Regions from separate parts of the Homo sapiens genome. Here regions 1, 2 and 3 are each linked to region 4. Evidence: fine-mapped expression QTL. A gene starts in region 4. Each other region holds a variant in brackets. All regions are shown on one strand. Distances are between the middles of the regions. Region 1 has its middle 30 kb from the start of SMAD1. Region 2 has its middle 55 kb from the start of SMAD1. Region 3 has its middle 11 kb from the start of LINC02266. Region 4 holds the start of SMAD1 (SMAD family member 1).

The links. PIP is the estimated chance that this variant, and not a neighbour inherited with it, causes the effect.
Region 1: its variant is the best candidate, but not a certain one, in a credible set for the expression of SMAD1 in whole blood (TOPMed, PIP 0.51).
Region 2: its variant is the best candidate, but not a certain one, in a credible set for the expression of SMAD1 in fibroblasts (GTEx, PIP 0.54).
Region 3: its variant is the best candidate, but not a certain one, in a credible set for the expression of SMAD1 in lung (GTEx, PIP 0.78).

Annotation. Positions count from the first base shown.
Region 1 is chr4:145,449,205-145,453,571 of GRCh38, forward strand. No RefSeq gene overlaps it. Among named protein-coding and RNA genes, the nearest start is that of SMAD1, 30 kb to the right of the region's middle. The variant T/C (reference allele first, on the strand shown) is at 1,942.
Region 2 is chr4:145,424,849-145,429,215 of GRCh38, forward strand. No RefSeq gene overlaps it. Among named protein-coding and RNA genes, the nearest start is that of SMAD1, 55 kb to the right of the region's middle. The variant T/C (reference allele first, on the strand shown) is at 1,867.
Region 3 is chr4:145,349,181-145,353,547 of GRCh38, forward strand. No RefSeq gene overlaps it. Among named protein-coding and RNA genes, the nearest start is that of LINC02266, 11 kb to the left of the region's middle. The variant A/G (reference allele first, on the strand shown) is at 2,037.
Region 4 is chr4:145,479,504-145,483,870 of GRCh38, forward strand. It overlaps SMAD1 (SMAD family member 1), which reads left to right and starts at 2,350. Exons shown (of 7, transcript NM_005900.3): 1 at 2,350-2,535. RefSeq lists silencers at 2,119-2,248, 2,419-2,578, 2,919-2,978, 3,069-3,168.

The sequences.
Region 1 (4,367 bases), 30 kb before region 4:
CTTATGGGAGAAACAGTGATGAGATTCAAAGGTCACTGGAGAGAAAAATGACCAATATGTTACCTAGGTGACCAAAAGAGTGGCAGTACCATTAACAAAAATAAAAAATCAAGCGGATGAGTTTTAAGTTTTGAGCTGTTAATGCTGAAGTAAAATTGTGACTATGACCTGCAGAGAGTTGGAAGTGTGGGACTAGAATTTAAGAAAGGTTAGTTTATGTTGGACAGATGGAGTTAGATGGTGTTTGAGGTTTGGGGAGCTGAAAAATTCCCCAAAGAGATGGAGGGGGTGTGGGCTGGAGAAAGAGAAGGGGAACAAGAGACCCCATAGAGGTCAGTAGGGGAGGTGCCAATCCTAAAGGTACAATTAGCACTACGATTTTGCAATGCCTCTGAAGCCAGGAAGAGTGCTTCTAGAAGGAGAAAGAAGAGTTAATGGTACCCAGAAGCCCATAGGGGTAGGAGCTAAAATAATTTCCGTGATGTCTCAGGAATCTTCAAATATAATTTTATTGGAGTAGTGTATGTGAGTCAGATTTCAGAGGGCTAAGGAATGAGTGTGGATTGGGAAACTCCAAAAAGAAGTTTGACCATAAGAAAATAGAGCAAGAGAAAATGGTAACCAACCCAGAGAATGGATAAACTCTGAGGATGAAAACATGCAGGGAAAGAAAAAAAAAATCCTAGAAAAACTTACTGTTTGGAGTCAGAAAGAGGAAGCCTGAAAAAGGGGAAGGATTGGTTTGTGCCCAGGAAAACTAGATTGGCTAGAATGGGCGTTGGGGGGGGGGGGGGGGGGGCGCGGAAATAACAGGTAATGATGTCCAAGGCAGCAGAAGGTGTCTAGGAACACCTTGGAAATATCAGGATCAGATATGCCCGGATTCCATTCCTGCCAAAAATAAAACATGAAAAGCTTATATGCATAGAAAACTCCTGGAGGTTTTATAATAGTAAACTTTCACAAGTGGTTTCCTCTGAAAAGTAGGACTCATGGAGATTTCTTTTTTGTATTTATTCTTCTGTATAATTGGAGTTTGAAATTTTTAAGATCATGAATATGTGTTTATTTATAATTTAAAATATTCAAATTTTTAACAACCTGTGTCAAGTTCAAAATTTTAAACAATTTGATCTTGATGAATTGGAAGGAAAAATTGAAGAAGGTATCTCTTACTATATATGTACACTTCAGAATTTCTTCATGTGCATAAACTTCTTTTATAATTTAAAAAATTATAAGAGAATATATTGTCATAAGGAAGAAAAATAAATAGTTGGCACTGTGTTCTATAACATTCACCTTTTAGTTCTGGGCAGGAAGATATAAAGTTCCTGCCCTCAGAGAGTAAAGAGACAGGACATGATGCAAAATAGCTTCTAAATCCCAGCCCAGTGTACAGAGTAAAAACATCGAGGGACAAATTAAAAGAATTAACTCTAAAACTACATCTAAAGCCTTTAAGGTGCCTGTCATATGGGAGGCACTCAATAAATATTAGTTATTATGATTTGTCAAGTTATATTCATATTTAGTATATTATAAAATATAAATGTAGTAGCCTTAGGCCTCTAATAATTCCATTAATATTTACAGAACACAATGCCTGCACATGTGCCAGAGATGAGAAAATGAATGAGATATTATCCTTTCCTTAAAAGCTAATTGGCAAACAAAATATAAAAAGATATATAATAATGCAGGTCAGTGTATGCTGTGTTCCAAATATGTGATCCAGACAAAAGTGGTTCTGCAATTTGAAGACGAGAAAAATCACAGAGGACAGGAGCAATTAGGAAAAGCTTGCAGAGATAAGACATGAATGGACCTTGGAGAATATGAAAGGAGAGAAAAGGGCATCCTGGGGGGAAAATGCAATGAACAGAGACTAGAAACAAAAAAGATGCGTGGTCTAAATATAATTTGTTATCCTAGATAGGA[T/C]CCTGAAACAGCGAAAGGACTGTAGTATGAAAACTGATGTTTAGTCAAAAGTAATATACCGACATTGTTTTCTTAACTTTCACAAATGTAGCATGATAATGTAAGATGTTAACTTTAGGGGAAACTGGATAAAGAGTAGACATATAGGAACTCTCTGTACCAACTTCATATTTTTTTCTGTACATCTAAAAATTATTCCAAATTAAAGTTTATCTTTAAAACTGTGCATGGTAAGTTCATGAACTAGTGAGTAAACAAATACAGCCAAAGCTCAGAATTTAGTTAGAAAGATAATGATAAATTAAGACGAACAGGTGGGTAAGTCCTAGATTGCAGAAGACTTTGAATGCCTGGCTAAAGATTTCTGATTTAATTCTGCAGTTCATGTAGTGTTATTGAAAGTAGCAGAACAATGAGGTGTTTGAAGGAGAAAGGAGCCTTCAAATAGGTGGCCCAGGAAATCTTATGTCACCATCATCATTGACTTTCATTTGTCCAACATCATGTTTTCTAAAAGCCACCACAAATGGCACACTAACATATTCTCATTCATATTTTCCTCAGTTATTAAAATGCTAATGTTTAGTAAAAATACCATGTGATGGGAGAGAAGCAAACAATGTAGCCCTCCCCTCATGAATAATGAAGCCCTACGTAATGATGACTTGGTCTCACTCAACATCCATAGTGCTAGAAGCAGACCTTTCTCTATGAAAAGTTAGTGTTGTCATGAGCTTCCATTTCTTTTACTGTCAGCCAAAAACAGTTCCCTGAAGCATATTGCTTCACTGTAGGAAAATCATTTCAAAGACCCTCCAAGTTGTGAAAATGTAAGGCAAACAGACAATCTTTGCCTGTGAGAGTTTGTGTGTAGGTGTAGGTGTCCAAAATGAGCATGTGTCTGTTGCTTAACAACATCTGGCTTTCTCCTTTGCATGCAACAGGGAGATTCATTGTTGGGGTATGCCGAGGTAGTCCAGTGGCAGGAAGAGATGCTAAGACAGACCAAAGAAGGATTTATGGAGAAGACTTATGTGCTCCAGCATGACAAGAGGCTGGGATTGAGTTCTTTTCTAGCTTTGGCCCACCTGGCTTGGTGCTAAGCATTGAAGGGAAAAAATTGATGAGTGTGTGAATGTGACCTAAAATAGATGTGGTCTCAGAGCTCCAGAGGGACACTGGCAGGGTGATGGGAAGAAGAGAGCTGAATCAGTAGGAGCATCACAGCAGCCACAAACAAATGTCCTGATATCAGAATGTGCGGGACCCATCTTTAACCTCATGTGACAGAGACCAAGCCAAGGTGTTAGTGGATTGTTCATACTTCCCAGATTTCTCTCTCGTCCTGGCTTTTTGCAGGACTGATCGCCTTTGAACTGAGTAAGTTCCTAGTGTTCTTACCCAAGCAGGCTGGCTGAGGGAGGCCTTAGGAAATAAGTGGACTTCCTATCACTAAGGGCAGGTAATAAATTGAATAAATAAATATGAGGCAATTGTGTTTGTATTCCAAGCTAGCAAAGTGGATCATTCCAGATACACTATTGATGTGAATTTCTACAAAGTGAGTCATTTCCCCTATGGTCTTTTTTAACATTTCTTAAATGTATTCCCACAACACCTGCAGTTCAGTGCACTGTTTTTGAGAATGTAAGAAGCAGAGTGCACAACCTACCTATGAGAAAAATGGACCCAGAGGACAGGAATGAGAGCTTCGTGAAGAGGAAACCTGCATGTACTAGTCTGATTCTTTTTTCCGCTTGTTTAGGACACACTACCATGCTGCCTGTTTGAAGCCATCTCACAGGATATTTGCAAGAGCCACTGGGATGTTAGTTCCATGAAAGGAAGAGTTCTGTGTTGCTTATTGACCTATACCAGGGCCTGGTAGATGCTCAGTAAATATTTACTGAACAAACCGATGAATCTAGTGAACTAAGGGACATCAGAATATCTAAATACTGCAAAGTAGGATTGAAGACTGATGATGGTTAATGTCTGTCCACCAAAAACACTATTAGGGAGGGAGAAATTTTCTGGGAGAAGATTGTCAAGAGGAAAGAATACATTAATACAAATACACAGGGGAGAAAGCTTCTGTAATGGAGGGCTCCAGTCTAAGTCCCTTTAAGCTAAATTGAGCCAAGAGCATTGCCTTACTGATGAGTATTCCTTTGTAGAGGAAATAGAGATCTTTGAGAAGTGGAAGTAAATCTCAATTTTCTGGGCCTAATGCCAGATATTCTAGCACATTAAAGATGACAGACAAAGGAGATGACACCTTAAGATTTATTCCAGATTGTATATTTTCCTCCATTTGTGGGTTAGATTGTATATTTTTCTCCTTTTGTGGGTTGAGAAAGTAATAGAGAATGTGGGGAAAGAAGTTTTCTGCTGTTCTCTCTATAATTTTAGGAGCTACAGTATCT
Region 2 (4,367 bases), 55 kb before region 4:
GTGCCAGTTACTGGAAATAAATTTTCTCAGCTTTTATGTACATATAAAGACTTTTTCAGAGTGTCACCCTGCTGTTTTGGCTCACATTTTTTAACGAGAAGGCTACTGTTTGTTATGTTTATCTTTTGATATAGGCTAAATTTTACACACACACACACACACACACTGTACCCCCAAATTAATATGTTGAAGCCCTAAACCCCAATGTGGCTGTATTTGGAGACAGGGCTTTTAGGAAGTAAATAAGATTAAATGAGGTCATAAGAGCAGAGTTTGAATTTTATAGGATTGGTGGCCTTGTAAAAAGAAAAAGAGAGATATGTCTCTCTCTCTCTTTATCTCTCTCTCTCTCTGTGTGTGTGTGTGTGTGTGTGTGTGTGTGTGTCTCCATGTATACACACTAAGGAAGGGCCATGTAAGGTCACAGCAAGAAGGCAACCATCTACAAACCAGATAGAGAGCTTTCATCAGAACCTGACCAAAATTCCTTTGTTATTATTATTGCTTAAATAAATTTCTGCTGTTTAAGCCACCTATTATGTGGTATTTTATTAGGCAGCCTGAGCTGACTAATACATCTTTACTTTTCCATATGTAATATTTCTGTTTCACTTTTAAGATTTACTCTTTATTACTAGGTTGCAGCATTTGGTCGTGCTGTGCTTTTGTGTTGTTTCTTTCATGTTTTCTGCTTGGGGTTTGTTGAGCTTCTTGAATCTGTGGGTTTATCATTTTCATCAAATTTATCAAATTCATCAAATTTAGAAAGTTGTGACCATTAATTTTTTCAAGTAATTTTTCTTCCCTCCCCAACCTACCTTTTCTGGTACTCCAATTATAAATATATTAGGCCGCGCATGGTGGTTTATGCCTGTAAGCCCAGCACGTTGGGAGCCGGAGGCAGGTGGATTGCTTGTGTACAAGAGTTTGAGACCAGCCTGGGCAATCTGGTGAAACCCTGTCTCTACAAAAACTGCAAAACTTATATTTTGTCCAGCTTTATATTTGTTTAAAGATGGGGAAGTAAATCTGATTCTTATTATTCCATCATGTTAAGGAGGTAGAGACTTTAATGTTGTTTGAACAACTGTTGAAGAGTTGTTTTATGTATCTGAAGTATGGGAAATAATTAATCAACTAGGAAAATATTAGAACTTATTATTAAGTTAATTCCAACTGGGTCAAACTGTTGTTTGATACAATTAGGCAAAAGATATAATTTTATTATTAGAAAACAAAAATTGACTGTGTCTTGAAGGTTCCAAATTTTTGTCTTAAATACAATAAGATGTTTTTATATCAACCATTTTTTTCCTGTTTCTATACCACCACAGTCACTAAATTTGCATAAAATGTTTGGCAGTTTCTACGACTGTACTCCTGCGTGCTATGCCTGCACTACTGGAAGAAGTTTTGATGTTAGCTACTAGACGTTTAGATCTTCACTTGCAAATATCTAGCATAGTTTCCTTGCTCAAATCCCACAGATAGAATTTCCTTTCTCTAGGCTGGATGCAGTCGTTCATGACTGTAATCCCAACACTGCGAGGCTGAAGCAGGCAGATTTTTGAGGCCAGGAGTCCAAGACCAGCCTGGTCAACATGGTGAAACCCCATCACTACTTAAAAAAAAAAATTAGCCAGATGTGGTGGCACATGCCTGTAATCCCAGCCACTTGGGAGGCTGAGGCATGAGAATTATTTGAATCTGGGAGGTAGAGGTTGCAGTGAGCTGAGATCACGCCATTGCACTCCAGCCTGGGTGACAGAGCAAGACTCTGTCTCAATTAAAAAAAAAAGAAAAGAAAAAAGAAGAATTTCCTATCTTCAGTTAGTATCTAGTAAATGCTTAACACTTCTAAGCATA[T/C]CTTCAAACTGATAAGTGAAAACAGAGCTGTAAAAATCTCCTTTTGCACAAAGCACTATTATTTAGTTATTTTAGATGAAAGCATTTGTGTATTGTTATATGGCAACTTCTTTGGGGAAAGCAGCATGTCTTGTACATATAGCTATATCCACAGAGACTATGCTGAGCATATAGTGAGTGCTGCAAACATTTATAGAAATCAGTGAACAGATTGCTGTTTACACTCAAAAGATACTCAATGATCTTTGATAATAATTTACCAATAAGTCTCAGAGCCTGTTAATTCTTGCATTTTCAGCTGAGCATCCAGAAAGTTGAGAGAATAAAAATGATGAAGTACAGCCTGAGTATAATTAAGGATTATAATTAATATCTGTTGTTCAGAAGCCCTTATACAGTGGTCTATTAAAGTCTGGATACAAAAATCTAAAAAGACTGGATTGCTGGCATCAGACTGAATTCCTAGAAGTGAATTTTTAACCTTAAAGATAAAACTTGATTCTGGGGGCATGTATTTTTATGGTACCATAATTTAACCTATCTTAATTAAGATTATATTCCATTAGCTATATTTTTTCTTATATATTTTGTCACTCATTTTGCAATTTCATAGTTAAATATTACAAAAGAAAAGTTGTAAACATTTTGGCTGCCTTTAAATGTTTGCTGAACTTTGCTTGTCAGCAGCTGGTCACTGCTATGTACTGTCTGTCTTTTTAACCAAGCCCAAATTGGAAAGAAAATAACAGATGATCAGTTAATTATTTTTCTGTGTGTATGTGTGTTTAGCTGTCTTTCAAAGGCATCGACCATAAGCATTGCTTATTGGTAGTCATCTTTTTTGGTTGCAAACTAATCGACTGGCAAAAATAAAATAGATCCTACACAAGGGATTTAGAAAATATTTTATAAAAAAGAATGCCAATAGCAATGCTTATAGGAACTAGACCATACATGTAGAACAAAGCATGTATTGTGTACTTTGGGAATAAACAATGAAGCTGTTAGCTATATGAATCTTAAATGATTACATTAATATGCTGGATGACTTGGGAAGTTGGACAATTGGTCTTTCACTTTTTGTATCTCTCTCTCTCTCTTTAACACCTCTATCGTTTTCAATGGTTTTTCACTTTTTAAAGCTTAGCTCTGTTATATACTCTAGGTCATAGGTATAAATGAATAGAATAATTTCTGTGTTCAATTTATTATAAGTTGTCTATAACATATATTTATAAAGGAAACTTTACATTTGATAACGTTTTATGTTTTACTTGAGGCACACAAGCTTGTTTAACCCGACTTATTTTGTTGTTTTTGTTCTGTTTTGTTTTGTTTTAGGCTTTTAACAGCCTGAAGCCATGGTTTTCTGTTTCTGTCTGGTGATAAGCTTAAAAGAGGGATGAGAAAGGGGATTTACTGGCCCAACCAGAAGCAGAAACTAAGAATCCATGACTGCATTCTCTCCCTTAGACACCCAATAGCTTCTTTCTCCTAGCAGGATAAATATCTTTGTAAATGCTAAGGCTATCTATGCAAATGTTTCACATTCTTCTTGACAACACTTACTCGATTAATTCCAAGATAGCACTTGTATATTTTTTTCCTTATTTCAAATACAGGGTAAAGGAAAAGCCTTCGCTATCAAAACATTGTATTATTTTCTCACAGCTCCAGCAATATCTGAGTTAAAAACTAAACAAGCAGTTTCAGATAGTACTTTATCAGAAAACAGTGAGGTTCTGCCATCAAGATATGTGATGCATAATGTAATTTTTTTTAATGAGAGAAAGATAGAGCAGAGGGTATTACCATTCCTCCACAGTCACACAGCAGTTCTAATTGGAATTAAACCCAGACATCTTGACATTCAGTATCTTTCTTGTATCATGGCAATAAATCTATGAATAGCTTTGTATTTATAAACCCAGATTCTACAGTTATATTACTTGAAGTAACTATTAAACATTTATTTATTCATTTTCAATGTTAGACAGTTGCATTAGTGTAATAATATCCAAAAAAGCATAAATAGTGCCTACATAACAGATTTTTAAATTAGTTTTCAAATTAGTATTCAAAGCAACTAACTATATTACAACTCAAAAGTACACTCAGCTATGATATTGATATAGGCAAAACTATCTGAGAAGAAGCCTCGATGATTTGCCGCTTGAATCACTACTTAAAAGAGAGGTAGAATCAAGGCTAAATGAGCTATGCCTGTAATATAATGAATTTTATGTCTTTTCTAGTAAGCATCAGATCGTACTCAGTTAGTGTTTGTCTCTTTAAAGTGAGTGCAACAGACTACATATTCATTTCAATGGATACCGCGATCACTTGGCAAAACTTTGGCACTCCTCCTTTGAAACTGTCTTTCAAAACTGCAACAAAAGCAGGACCAATATTCTCATCTTGCTTTTACCCCAAATGTAACTATCTAGATTAATCATTCACACACATATTTAATGTTTTTGACGGTTTTTCTTAATCATATC
Region 3 (4,367 bases), 130 kb before region 4:
AGCCCCATCCCTAAAGATTCTGACCCCATAAGGGCCCTAGAATTTTCTTGTTATTGTTTTGTTTCATTTCATTTTTAAATATCCAGGTAATTTTGATGCAACCCAGAATATTATACCAGCAACCAAATCTCTCTTAGCACCCTCAGCTCCAGGATTAAGGACCTGCTAGGAGGTTTCCAGCATAATGCTGCCTTCTGTCTTATCACCCTCCCTGACTTTAAACCTGAGGTCAGCCTTTCCAAATCAGTGCGCCTCATTTCTAACGCTTGTTCTCTACTTGAAATGAAAGGAAGCAGAGTGATGTTAAGAACAACCTTGAGGAGGAAGAAGAAAGGGGAGAGAACAAGGGCATTGCTTTTGCAAGGGGAAGGAGACTCCCGTGTCAGTGCAAGGACTTGCATGTCCTGGAAAATCAATCTTGACTTCTTTGTTTGTTCATATGATTTTACCTTTTAAAATTTAGCAAATACTTTTTGAGTGTGCATTATATGCTGAGCACTATGACAAGCATCAAGGAAACAATGAATGAGATGGAGGCTGCCCACAAGATGTTCACAGCATAAAGGAGAAGAGAGAGAAAAACCACAAACTAAAACATGATCTTATAAGTACATATGCTGGCCGGGCATGGTGGCTCACACCTGTAATCCCAGCACTCTGGGATGCCTAGGTGGAAGGATCACTTGAGAGCAGGAGTTTTGAGACCAGCCTGCACAACATGGTGAAACCCCATCTCTACTAAAAATACAAAAATCAGCTGCGTGTGGTGGCTCATGTCCGTAATCCCAGCTACTCAGGAGGCTGAGGCAGGTGAATCGCATATACCTGGGAGACAGAAGCTTCAATGAGCTAAGATCAAGTCACTGCACTCCAGCCTGGATGACAGAGTGAGACCGCATCTCAAAAAAAAAAAGTACATATGCTGAAGAAAGCACATATGGATTGGGAACACAGAGGAAGGAACAATTAGGATAAGGGAACAGAGAAGTCATAGTGGATAAGATGTCACATTGAGAGGGACATGAAAGTTAAATTCATGAGAGGTGGAAAGGCATGTAAATCAGAGAGAAGTTATCAGCAAAGATCCTGAAGCATGAAAATGCCCAGATCCCTAACATCTGTCTTAAACCATTAGCCCACCCAAGACAGGACAAGGCCCTGCCACTTGAATGGAAGAAGCACACAGCCATGAGAACATTCTCAGGTTTACCTAACTTTTTTTTTTTTTTCAAACTTTCATGTTTTCAAACTAATTTTCAGCATCACATTGAAATTTCAGGGAAACAATTTCAGTACTTTCATTTAAGATTCTGCTTTAGTAATATTCACTAAATAATAGATAGTTGAGTCATTAATGATTTCCTAGTACTCCCCAATTTTGTGACTTGCTTTGCTGCTATTTGTGTTGGGTAATTCCTTACATGCTCCATAGGTTAGTAGTATCCGTGTCATTTTATAGATGAGGGAACAGGCATGGAAATTTGGAGACTTTTCTAAGTTTATAAGTATCAAATAAGAATCAAATTAATTATCTGACAATATGTTCCATTTAAGTATACAGAAAACTTGTGTGAATAAACTTTAAATGAAGAGTTAGAAAGCTGGATTTTCATTTCATTACTACTATAATCTCACTGAAGAAAATCTATTAACCTTTTGCAGCCTATTTTTGTCATTTGTAAAATGGAGTTAATAATACCTGCCTTGGATCCTCTTCTCATAAACCTTGAAAAGGTAAATGAGATAACTTTGATGTGATGCTTTGCATGCAGAAGCAGAGCACAAAATAAATACAAGGCATGGCTTTTATCACTAGCAGTTAAATGACCCAGCTAGGCCACAGCATCAAAGGGATACCATAACCATTTTTTAAAAAGAATAAGAGGTAGTTTCCGATATAAGTAACAAGAGGCGGGAAATTATTTTTATCAGCTGACTTTACCTATTTTAAAAGGAGAAATAAAAACATTAAATGTAGGATTATCATATGATCCAGCAATGTCACTTCTGGGTATATACCCAAAAGAAGTGAAAGC[A/G]GGGACTTGAACAGTTATTTGTAGACCACATTTTAGCAGCATTACTTACAATAGCCAAACGATGGAAACAACTCAAATGTCCATTGACACATGAATGGATAAATACAGTGTAATATAAACCACATTGGAATATATGATGCAATATCATTCACCGTTAAAATGAAAGCAGATTCTGATACATGTTACAACATGGATGAATCTTGAGGACATTATACTAAGTGAAAATGAAACAGTCACAAAAAGGCAGATGCTGTAGGATTCCACTTATATAAGGTACCTAGAGTAGCCATAGAGACAGAAAGTAGAATGTTGGCTGCCAGGAGGTCAGGGAGAGGAGAATGAGGGGTTATTGTTTAATGGGTATGGAGTTTTAATTTGGGGTGATGAAAAAATTCTGTAGATGGATGGTGGTGAGGGTGGCAGAACAATGTGAATGTACCTAATGCCACTGAACTGCATACTTAAAAATGGTTAAAATGCTAAATATTCTGTTATGTGTATTTTATCCCAATAATAATAATAATAATAAATCTAGCTCATAAAAAGGAGGAAGAGAACAAGCCCACACTCAACTCAGAGTTTAGAGATCTAAATTGGCTTCCAGCTTAATTTCACTGTTACATATCTTGGATAAGATACATAGGTTCTCCTCAGTTTTCATTTCTATTATATAAAGACAATAGTACCTTCTTTACATGTTGTAAGGATTAAATACACATAAAATATTCTATAAACTCTGACTTCTATACAATATAAAATATTGTATTCTATCTTACCAGTTTGGGAAGTGAACAATTTTAGAAGCAAAGAAACCTGAGATTCAAAGAAGGCTGTGAGTGGCAGAGCCTGGTCTGGGACTGAAGGTTCTTGCATCCACTCCAGCACAGCCTGCTGCCTTTCTTATTGCTTTGTTTTCTTAGGAAAGCAAAACAAAGTGAAGCCAGCCCCAAGTAGCCTACCACCACCATCTGACTTACTGGTCCTCATACAAATTCTTCTCAGGTTGGCAGTGCCGGGAATTTAATGATAGACTGAGGAGAAGAAACATTTCTTTCTGTGGGGACACTTGGAAAAAACTATCCTCTTGTTTATCTGGATTCTCTTTTATTTCATAAATCATGTCATTCATTCATCCCAGTTGACCTACCTCAGTTCATTTAATTTTTCATCCTGCAAAATGTTCTTAATGTCTTGGTTCCTAAGGAAAAAGTTTTGGGAGTGGAGAGGGGAAGATGTTCAGCCTTCTCAGTGCTGAGGCTGGGAGAAGGGCAGGGTTAAATGTGACCCATCACCTCTCGCTTTGGCCAGAACAGACCCCTGTCAGTTAGCCACAGGGCCAAGAGACTGCACAAAGCTCCACACCTGCACTCCTCATGTCCTTATCCCCATGGCAGTATAAGCCATATCACGTTTCATGTTCCAACTCATGTTCCAAAGGAGCAGCTCTCAATTTCTAGGGAGTCAGGGTAAAGTAGGGCATTTGGCACCAATGACAGATATAATTGTGTGTGTATGATACTCTTTTACTCATTAACAACGGCAACAGGAGCTGCTAAAAATCTTACAGAACAAGATTCATTTTTTTAAAAGAGTCTTTACAGATCCTGAGTCCATTTTGTGGAATCTCTGAGTGAACTTACACAAAGGATTTAAGTCTGTTTTCCCAGCACTGAATCTACATGGGTGAGGACCCAAGCCAGTCTGCTTAGAGACCTTGGAGATGAAAGGCCCAGCCAGGACAGCCAGCCAAACCCGCTGGAAGCTGGCCCTGCCACAAATGGAGCCAAAGGTTGGATTATTCCTGCTAGAATTTTCTTTTTCTGAAGGACTGGAATGTCATAGGAATAAGAAGTCCTGGTGAAGAAAAGTCACCTGTAACCTATGCCACCACTAAGCATTAATCATTATTTTCATCATCCTTGTGGCAAAATTGTCATTGGACATATGAGGATAGGTAATATACTAGATATTTACAAGTTGATACTGCCAACCAAAAATAAACAAACAACAACAAAATGGATTGCTGGGACTACAGACATGTACCACCATGCCCGGCTAATTTTTTTTGTATTTTTTGTTTTTGTTTTTGTTTTTTTTTTGTATTTTTAGTAGAGTCGGGGTTTCACCATGTTGACCAGGCTGGTGTCAAACTCCTGACCTCAAATGATCTGCCTGCTTTGGCCTCCCAAATTGCTGGGATTACAGGCGTGAGCCACCATGCCCGGCCTGTTGCACACTTCCTATGAGGCTGTATTGCCTAATAATCTGTCACTGTCTCCCATCACCCGCAGATGGGACTGTCTTGCTGCAGGAAAACAAGCCCAGGGCTCC
Region 4 (4,367 bases):
GCACATAGATACTGAGGTGAGAATGTGCCCAGATTGTTCCAGAAGAGTGAGGATGCCAGTGTGACTTGGGGAAGTGAGCAAGAGGAAGAGTAGAAGTGCAGGTCAGAGTGCTAAAGGAGGGGAAGGAAAGATTATGTAGAGTCTTGTGCTTATTATGGGAACTTTTATTCTGAGTGAAATGAGGACCCAAGGGAGGATTTTTTAAAAATTTAATAAAATGATATTAATATACAGTCCATATTTAGGTTTTTATAATGGTCTCATCAATGTCCTTTTAAAAAGAATATCCAAATTTTTATTATCATTTAAGGAAATAATTTGCACAATGGGCAAAATCAAATTTTATTGCATACATAATAATATTAATAGTTATCATTTAAGACTACTAGGACTGCACTAAGAAAGGCCATCTAGGCTGGGCGCGGTGGGTCATGCCTGTAATCCCAGAACTTTGAGAGGCTGAGACGGGTGGATCACTTGAGGCCAGGAGTTTGAGACCAGCCTGGCCAAAATGGTGAAACCCCGTCTCTACTTAGATGGGCGTGGTGGTGTGTATCTGTAGTCCCAGCTACTCGAGAGGTTGAGGCAAGAGAATTGCTTGAACCCGGGAGGCAGAGGTTGCAGTAAGCCGAGATCGTGCCATTGCACTCCAGCCTGGGCGACCGAGCGAGACTCCGTCTCAAAATTAAATAAATGCCATTTTTGATTTTTTTAAAAATTAACGACTTTAAAATGACAGTTTATAGCTCCTCCTCCCCATTCAGGATCCAATCAAGGTCATATACTGCATTTCATTGTCATGCTTTTTTTTTAATAGCTTGAGGTAAAATTCACATACCAAATGATTGACCCATTTAAAGTGTGCAATTTAATGGCTTTTGGTATATGCACAGAGTTGTGCAACCATCACCAGAAACTAGTTTTAGAACAATTTTGTCACCCCATAACCTTTAGCTGTCACTCCCCAGGTTCCTCATTTCCCCAACCCTATGCAAACCACCAATCTACTTTCTGTCTCCATAGCCTTGCCTACTCTGAGCATTTCACATATGTGGAAGAATACAATGTGTGGTCTGTCTTCTTTCCCTTCACGTTTTGAAAGGTTATCCATGTAGCATGCATCAGTATCAGTACTTCATTCCTTTTTATGGCTGAATAATGTTCTCTTGTATGGGATACTTTATACTATTTATCAAGGGAGGGTTTTCAACAGAGGAGTGGCCTGATCCGAGTGGCATTTAACAAGGTTCACTTTCCTGTTGTTCTAAGGAGCAGAGAATGATCAACTGCGTCAAACGCTGCTTTTAGGGAAAATAAGATGAGGCCCACGAATTGACCAGTAAGTGCTCAAATAGGTTAAGGGAAAAAGGAATTTAATTAGAAGACATATTCTGATATACATTGCTGGGAGTGATTTTTTTTTTTTTTTTTTTGCTTCATGTGAAATTTATTCCTCAAAAAAAAATCATTTTTTCTAAACGTAACTCAACATTATAGTAATTATGCAAGATTTTATGCAGCTTCAAGAGTTAGCCAAGAGAAAAGTTGACTCTTGCAAGAAGATATTTTCAATGTCTATGCAGATCAGGTAGGTAAGAGTTAAGTGCGGGGGAGTTGGCATCATCTAAAAGACTGTAGAAATTGGACCAAAAATGTGGAGTTCTAAAGCAGTATCTCCTTATGGCATGCCATTATTTGGAGCAACAAGGTTACCTACTCGAATCACTGGATCCTGAGTTGACACAAAACGCATCTGTTGACTCAGGGTTTGTATAACCACGTGCAGTATTTACTAGGCTATCCAATTCTGGGTACGTACAACTTCTGGGGCCTGCAAATTATTGGAGAGTGAGTGAGGGGCAACGAAAGATAGACATAAAAGGGCGCGTCTCGAAAGGTAACTGTCAACATGCACTCCACGTTTATAGAACGATTCAGTGGGCGCGGTGGAAGCGTTAATGAACATTTCAGAAAATAAACATATGGAACATCGAAATTCACTTGCAGATAATGGACTAAGTCCGCTCCACCGGGACTAAAAAGGCAGGGTTAGGAAAGCCTGAACGCCGCCACACTGTTTTTTCTCCAGGAAGAAACGGGGCGTGGGGCTGCCGGTAGAAGGGGGTGGCTCCGGCCGCTCCCCCGCGCCGTCCTCCGGCCCCGGCCGCGCTGCGCTCACGCCGGCCGGGCCGGGAATTTGGAGAGGATCCCTGGTCGCGCGGCAGCGGCGGCGGCGCGCGGGTGAGCGGGTGAGCGTGTGAGCGGGCGGGCGGGCAGGCGAGTGCGCCGGGTATTGGCAGCTGAGGAGTGGAGGCTGGGCAGCTCCGACTCCCTGACGCCAGCGCGACCAGATCAATCCAGGCTCCAGGAGAAAGCAGGCGGGCGGGCGGAGAAAGGAGAGGCCGAGCGGCTCAACCCGGGCCGAGGCTCGGGGAGCGGAGAGTGGCGCAGCGCCCGGCCGTCCGGACCCGGGCCGCGAGACCCCGCTCGCCCGGCCACTCGTGCTCCCACACGGACGGGCGCGCCGCCAACCCGGTAAAACGAAACAGACCCGAACCGAACTTTCCCTTCATGCCGCGTCCCAGCCCTCCCCTCGGCGCCCCGGGCTTTCCAGCGCCGCCGCCGCCGTCTCTGCACGCGTGGGGCCGCCGCGGTCGTGCTGGGCTGGGGGCGCGGGCAGCGGCGGGAAGGGGGCTCTTTCTGCGCGGGGCGGGCCGCGACCCCCCCCCCCCATGATGGCGCCTCCCGTCTGCTCGGAGGAGCGAACCTGCTACCACGTCTTCTCGCGCCCAGCCCGCCGGGCTCCCCTGGTGTCTTTGTTGGGTCTTCTGCTGTGGGAAGCCCAGTTCCCGGGCCCCCGAGCCTCGGCTCCCGGGCCTGACCGCGCTGGGATCTCCCCGGCCGCGCTCCCCTTCCGCGCGCTCCTCACATCTCTCCCGTGCTGCCGCCGGGCCGAGGCCCGTTCGCGTGGCCCGCGGACCCATTGTGTCCCCCGCGCCGGCGGGGCGACCCCTGCGGGAGCTGGAGGACGACCGCTGGCGCTGCTCTCCAAGGCGCCTGGTGGAGCGGGTCTCGCGGGCGGGGGACCCCGGCGCCCCGGGCCCCTCCACATCCCGCACGGGTTTTCTTCTCGGCCCCAGCAAGCCTCTTTGGGGTCGAGGTCAAGGAAAGTTCGCACCGAGATCCCCTCTAATTTATTCAAAGGTTTGGCGGCGGCGCGTAATTTTTTCCCCCTCTTCCGCCTACACCCGCTGCGTCTCCTGGTGTCTCGTTCCTTTCCCTTTACCGGAGTCGATTGCCTCACTGCATGTGTATTCGTGAGTTCGCGGTTGAACAACTGTTCCTTTACTCTGCTCCCTGTCTTTGTTAGTGTTTCTCGGGGTTGTTTCTGTAGGAAGGTGGGGGTGGTGGGCGTGAGAGACAGATGTGGGCTTGTTTTTCTAGTTGCTGAAACTGTATGAAGGCTTTAAAGGGAGAACGTTTTCTTGATGTGCTTTAGGAGGGGAGGAGGAACAAATGCCTGCCAGATCTCACAGCTACAGTAGCTGAGCTTTTGTTTATTTTGAAGAGCATGCAATTTTTAAATACACGGTGCAAGATAACCAGTAAAGGCGCGTTCCTTCTGAAAATTGAGGCCGGTCTCAGAACCATCTCCTGAGAAAGCATCCTTTTCGTGAGTGCTGAGACAACTGTCCTTTTTCTCTGCCCTCCCCCCTCTTTTCTTTCCATTGTATCTGAAGTTTCAAAGTACGTGGAATGATACAGAAGTTGCATGATTTCTGTTATTTCTTCCTGTTGCTGAAACTCTCAGCCGCTAAATCTCAGAATGCCTCTATTTCAGAACATCTCTGGGTCTAATTGCCTGTTGTGGATAACTTGCCCACACCTCAGTAACACAATGAGAAAACTGTTCCCTGCCCATGTTGATTTTTCAAATTGTTTGTAATTACTTTAAATTGTATTGAAGGTAGGTGGACCGTGTTAAAAAAGAATCGGAACAGAAGTGTTCACTGCCCCAGCATTTTCAATTGGTATAAATATTGTTGCATCAGTGTTATTCTGATGTAGGTGCCAGATCTAAATATGCTGTACTGATTAAAGTGTTTGTTCTGCCCTCTCCCACTCTCTTTCCCATTTGCAATTATTTGCTATTTCTGTGCAGGTGGTGTATCATTGGTGTAATACTGCAGTTCTTAGGAAGGTGTAGCTAGGGTCGTGAGAGATGATTTTTCTGGAGGTGGGTGATGCCAGAGCCTCTAGAGGATCCAGGCAGGATCGAGTTTCTTCTGAGGGTAGGGATTTGTCCTTGATTTAGTTTTGACCCCTACAACCATAGGTATGTAACCAAATACATTTTACCTCTTGCA